Linked DNA regions of Homo sapiens: region 2 is linked to region 1. A link means that fine-mapping ties the variant in region 1 to the expression of a gene that starts in the linked region. Tissue or cell type: hypothalamus. Region 1 holds a variant in brackets; the other region holds the start of a gene. All regions are shown on one strand. Distances are between the middles of the regions. Region 1 overlaps GRM5 (glutamate metabotropic receptor 5). Region 2 holds the start of GRM5-AS1 (GRM5 antisense RNA 1).

Evidence for each region.
Region 2: it holds the start of GRM5-AS1, and the variant in region 1 is fine-mapped to the expression of GRM5-AS1 in hypothalamus (GTEx, PIP above 0.99).

What each region holds. Positions count from the first base shown.
Region 1 is chr11:88,530,371-88,533,304 of GRCh38, forward strand. All of the region lies in intron 8 of GRM5 (glutamate metabotropic receptor 5), which reads right to left. Among named protein-coding and RNA genes, the nearest start is that of GRM5-AS1, 27 kb to the left of the region's middle. The variant A/G (reference allele first, on the strand shown) is at 1,769.
Region 2 is chr11:88,503,274-88,506,207 of GRCh38, forward strand. It overlaps GRM5-AS1 (GRM5 antisense RNA 1), which reads left to right and starts at 1,303. Exons shown (of 6, transcript NR_049724.1): 1 at 1,303-2,934. GRM5 (glutamate metabotropic receptor 5) reads right to left here. Exons shown (of 10, transcript NM_001143831.3): 10 at 1,369-2,934.

The sequences.
Region 1 (2,934 bases):
CTCACAATAGATTTAATAAATTTCAGAATGACTTATTCTGAAATAAGTTTTGCTTATCTTCTGTAAAGATTTTTGTTGTTGTTGTTCTTCTTCTTGTACCTTCTTTGTCCAGGAAGTTCTAGCTCTTCTGTACTGAGTTCTACAAGAGCCTATACTCATCTGGTAAATCTAAAAGATGTGCAGGTAAGAATAACTTAGGATCAGATAGTAAATGTAATTTTCCATTATTATTTGGATAAAAAATTTCATTTCTTCACCTCAATTCCTCTTTCCTACCAATATCTACTGAATATTGGATTACTGAAATTTCTATATTGGCTATGTGATTCAGAATACATAAATGAGTGCAGAATGAAGTGAAAGACTAGAAGAAAATAAACAAGTTTAAATAATAAATGTGTATATTAGGTGAAGTAGCAGATAGATGGAGAATTGTGCCTGAAGCTGGCAGAAAAGGAGAGATTTTGATATTGGAAATAATGATGCCTTATGTGAGGCTGATCAAGTTTGAGTAAGTGACCAGGAATAGGAACATTAAAATGTATTAGAACTGGGGGGAAGAAAGAAGCTTGGTACTCATCTGTCCTTTATACAAGCACTAAATTCACTCAGAATGATAGCCGGGCTTGGGATAGACAGAAGTTCTTTATCCAGAAGTTGGCAGTAAACAGTAGTTATAAATGAAGCTAAAAGATAGAGGGATAACTAGATTCCATGAGTCTAAATTCAGTCAGAGCTTTAATTTTCACATTTTTGTATGTAAGGGTGTGATATATGCCTGGAAGCAGCGTTGAGTTGCTGACCTCCATCTCTGTGTCCTGTGAAACACGTGATATGGAAGAATAAGAAACTTTACTTGAGAGAGATATGGCGTAGAAATGTCCTTAGGAGGGAATTGGGTTTCAATTTAAGAAAACAACAGTAAATGGAGTGTTTAGTGAAGCGGTTGAATAAGAAGGGGGGTTTAATCATTAAATAGGAATTATAGACAGGGACTCTATATGGTTTGGAAGGGAAAGGTCAGTGGATGAAGCAAAGAGCAATATATAGAAGTAGAATTTACAAATGTGCTACAACTTATGAGATGCTAGGAAGATTCCATTGATGAATTCTTTCCTCATTTTTCTCTGATACCAAGGAGCAAATGTTCTCCATCCTGTATGAGTGAGGACACTCAAGATGCAAATGCTGTTGTGAGTATCCCATGGCATACTTAGAGACATGTTTTCTCATAGAAATTGCAGACTCTCTGAGAACATATTTGGTTAAAAATGAGTGGAGAAAGAGCCTAAGTTTCCTAGAGAGTTCAAGAATGGAGGGGAAAAAACACAAACACAGCAAATAAGAAAGCTAAAGGCACCAGAGGCACATTTCCCTTACTCCAGTTTTGTCATAGGCTTATCCTGCTCCAGGTTTTGTTCTTTCCAATAGATAAAATTGTCTTAAAAAATAATTTTCTTTCGCCACTTTCTCTCTCACACTGACATCTACTATGGCCCGTAGTCTTCCCCTTGAAGGAGCATTGTGCTAAGCCTTGTGAGCACTTAAACTCGTTTTCCATTCCTAAGCTAGCTGTCATTCAGCTTAGTGAAAACCACAGGGAGATATTTTCTTATATGTGTAGAAACCACAGTATACCTATTTTACTTCATGCTATAATGCTTTAAACTATTCATAGAAAAAAACAGCCTGATTTCTCTAAGAAGTCTGTGAAAGCGAGTTGGAAAATGTTGCATATTTCACATATGTCTTATGTGTAAATTTTAGT[A/G]ACTCAATATGGAATGGACACTAATGAGGCAGGAGGGTAAGTCTGGGGAGTAAGTGGGTAGGAGTGTGTTCTTCAAGGAAACCTCTCATTTAAACCAATATAGATGCATCCCATTTACAAAGCAAATTTAAATTCTCTCTTTCCTCAATTACTTTTTATTATTTAGAATAGAAGTATGGTATGAGCAGAGAAAAACAATATGGGAGGAAAAGAGTCTTTTTGGCCAAGAAAGTGCCAAAAATAGTAAAAGTTATTGAATGAGGGACATTTGAACTATAGTCATATGACAAGTCACTGTGAATGTTACAGAAAATCCTATAAGGGATTTTCATACCAAAATTGCAGTAAAGATGGCAGAGTTTTAGGACTAAGCTTGAGCATAAACATGGAAGTGCAGAGACTTAAAGAAAAATGACCATGTGAATAAACCCTAAACATAGTGCCTCCATTATGTAAGCCCTCAACCAACATTTTCTGAGGGAATACCTCCATGAATAAATGAATAAAATGGAATTGTAACTTTAGGGATGATCAAATCTCCAATGAGATTTGCTGTTGTTATTTGTTTTGTTTTTAATAATAAATACAAACTGAAGACATTCTGTACATGTTGGTCAAGAGATCAAGGAAGATGGAAAATATTAAAGATGTTTACAGAAAGTGGTAACTAATGTACAGAGTTTTGAGATAAAGTAATTGTAGAAAAAAGGAGGAAAGAACAGACTTTTTTGTAATCAGTCAGCATATACTGCAGGCTCCATCTGCAAAACATACCTAAAATCTGACCATTTCTCACCAGTATTTATTACCCTGGCCCAAGCCACCAATACCTGTTAAAATTTTAACAGTTTCTCAAACTGGTTCTGCTTTGTCTGTTACTAAATTTCCCCAACCCAGACCAAACCCATTCCAACCTCCACCCAGCAAGCAGAATATCCTGTCAAAATAGAAATCTTTTCATATCATTCATCTGCTCAAAACGCTGTTAGTTACCCATTTCTCTGAGTAAATTATGAAATTTTTTATCATGGTTTACAAATCCCTACACTTACCTCCCACTCCCTGACTATCTCTCTGATCCCAAAAGTCACTTTTTCTCCCTTGCTCACATTGCTTCATCTACAATGATCTTCTTGTTGCTTGAAGACACCAGATATCCTCCCAGC
Region 2 (2,934 bases), 27 kb before region 1:
GTTCAATATCAATTTACTAAGTTGTCCTTGATAGACAGTTCCAAGGTTGCATATGAGTTCAAACCTCAATAGGTTTCCTCCAGGATATATGCTTTAAGTTGGACAGGAACTTGTTAAGCTCCACAAATAACATTGATATAACAAATTTAAGCTTCCTGCTGAATATTAACTGTATACTAAATACTACATTGACACTAATAATAGCTACTATTGAGCATTTATCAGGAATGTTGAAATGATAGAAACTTCACAGATTATTGTAACTCACTTCTGCATTTAAAGCAAGAGGAACAAGTTGTAGAGAAATCAGAGTGATTTATCCAAAGTCAGTTGGTGACAGGTAAGAGATCCTGGCTTTTAATTCAATGCTATTTCTATTGCATCCGCTGGTTTTAAATGGCCTTCCATAATTTGATGGAGTCTGATAAGGCTCTTTGGATTTTTAGAAGGTAATTTCCTGTACCTGGTTTGTATATGTCACTTCATCCTCAATTTTATGTGAACATATTACCATTCATATCACGTTAGAATAAAAGATACTGAAGGGAAGAGTCTGACAAAACAGATAAAATGGCTTTCTTTGTTAAGATCAAACACATTCTGTATAATATATGTATCTACATATGTATATATATCATTATGCATTTAATACAATGTCAGAAGCATAAATCAAATATATTTTTAAATATACCTTGTTTTTCTCTTCCATACATCAAGCATCTACCTTATATTCTGCTGTTAGTTTTTCACTAATTTGTGTCCAGGGAATGTATATTTGCTCAAGAATCAGTCAAAGTAAAACTTTTTTTTTTTCTGGAAAAATTATGTAATATGCACATACATCTACACACAAACACACATATACACAGAGACACATGCAGATGGACTCAAAAGTCAAATGTCTATATAAATATGTATGTTTGTAAACACACATCTATACACACACAAATAATCTATTTTATCTGTGTGATGTTACCTCTATCAACACATATAATTATGAAACTATTTCTATAATTTGTATGTCTAGATGCATAAACAATGCATATTTCCTATATATTTTTTTAAGTACTTCTTTATGTAACAGTTGTTTGTAGATGTGTTTGGGGACAACATCTCTGGTTGGTTTGTGGTTGGTTTATATTTTCATTTAAATCTATACAGTCCACTGCTTACTTTGTAAACCCCATAATTCAAATGTATAGATCATCCAGTATTCAAGATTAATTAGTATCATGGCTCTTTTCATCTCAGAAAACACTATTAAGACAACATTCTAAACATTTGAGGGGAATAATCTTAAAATCATATTATAGGTTTTTTAATTTTTTTGAAAAGTAACTGGCTTCACAAACACCAAGTACAACATGATTTAGACAACTGAGAAACAGGCAAGTATATTTTGAAGTGCTAAAATAAAACATATTTATACAAGTACAAAGCAAAACAATGCTGATAAAAATGTTAAACTTTATGAAAAAAAATCATTTGCAGTTCACATCAAAATAATTTAACATTCTCTATTATTTTAATAGTACAAGCTGCCACAACAGAGAAAGAACAGATACACGCACACAATTTTAAAACCAAATCAGTTATAAGTGCAGAAAAAAGTAAGTACAAGCACTTTTAGCCCACACAAATCTTTTAGGATTGGCACCATCTTTCTAAAACATCTATAATCTATATAGATTTCTAATTACAACACCATCAGCAGCTGCCATTGATTTCTAGAAATACACACAATATACATAGTATATTTGTTCACATTGGGAAGATCAGTGAAATTCAACCAACTATTTTATACATGCCTCATTCTTCAATAGACAGTAGAGACTCTCCCAGGCCTCAGACCCTCTTCAAAGTGAATTCTGACTTGTCTTTATGCTTTCACTGATCTGTATTTTTTCACAGTATAAAATTGTAAATGGTAACTATAGAGATTCTGACAGCTTGAGGGTTATTAATAAGCTGTTGCTAAATGTGAACTCACATAATACCTTTGAAGTCTCCAAAACATGTACATTTTACTGGGAGACTAGCATAGGAAATGCTTTTGTTTTTTGTTATTCTTAAAAAGAGCATTTAATTCCTGGCTTGGAAGTCACAGAACTGCAGCAGAGCTATTATACAATTCATTTACAGTCAGAAATAGCTCCTAGTCTTCCTGATCACTTGCTGGTAACAGCAGTAGTTTGGGAAAGATAGTTACTTTCAAGGATTAGCACGTTTGGGGATTTGCTTTTTTTCCTTGCTTCAGTCAAATCTCTTATAATTTTTCTTTCCATACTCCCTTTCTGTTCCCCATCCCTAGCCCAGAAAGACGGTTCTTCCCAATCCAGATATGTTCTTCTTAGGCTGCCCCCACTCCTTTCCCAAAATGGAAGGATGAGTGGACTGCTTAGATTAGTCAGTATAACTTGGTTAAACCACGTCTTCTTCTTTCCATCCTGGGACATATCTCTCATTTAGGGTCACTTTGCTGAGCCTTAGCATATCCCCTTCCTTTTAGTCATGCTGGTCCCGACTGAATTATCACTGGGCACCAGGAACAGATTGTTTTGAAGGAAATTCAATGAGAATGTACCCAAATGAATTGTGAAGTTCATATCCTATAGCCCTAGAATGAATATTCAGTTCTCTTTGTACTGTAGAGTTATTACTTGGAACCTGGTATTAGAATTGGCAAAGAGACAGAGTTAGCATCATTCCAAAATAAAAGATCTCAAGAATGCATTACTAATAATCTTATGTCCAACATACAATGTATTCAATGGAGTGGCAAAAGTTATAGAAATACAGAGAAAAATATATCTTGTCCTTTTCTAATTGGATAAATCATTTTTATTATTACAGTTGATTATGATAGCATGTGGAAGTATCAGATGGCAATTTACTTGCATTAAATTTAATTTCTGATGAAGTTTTTTATAAGGT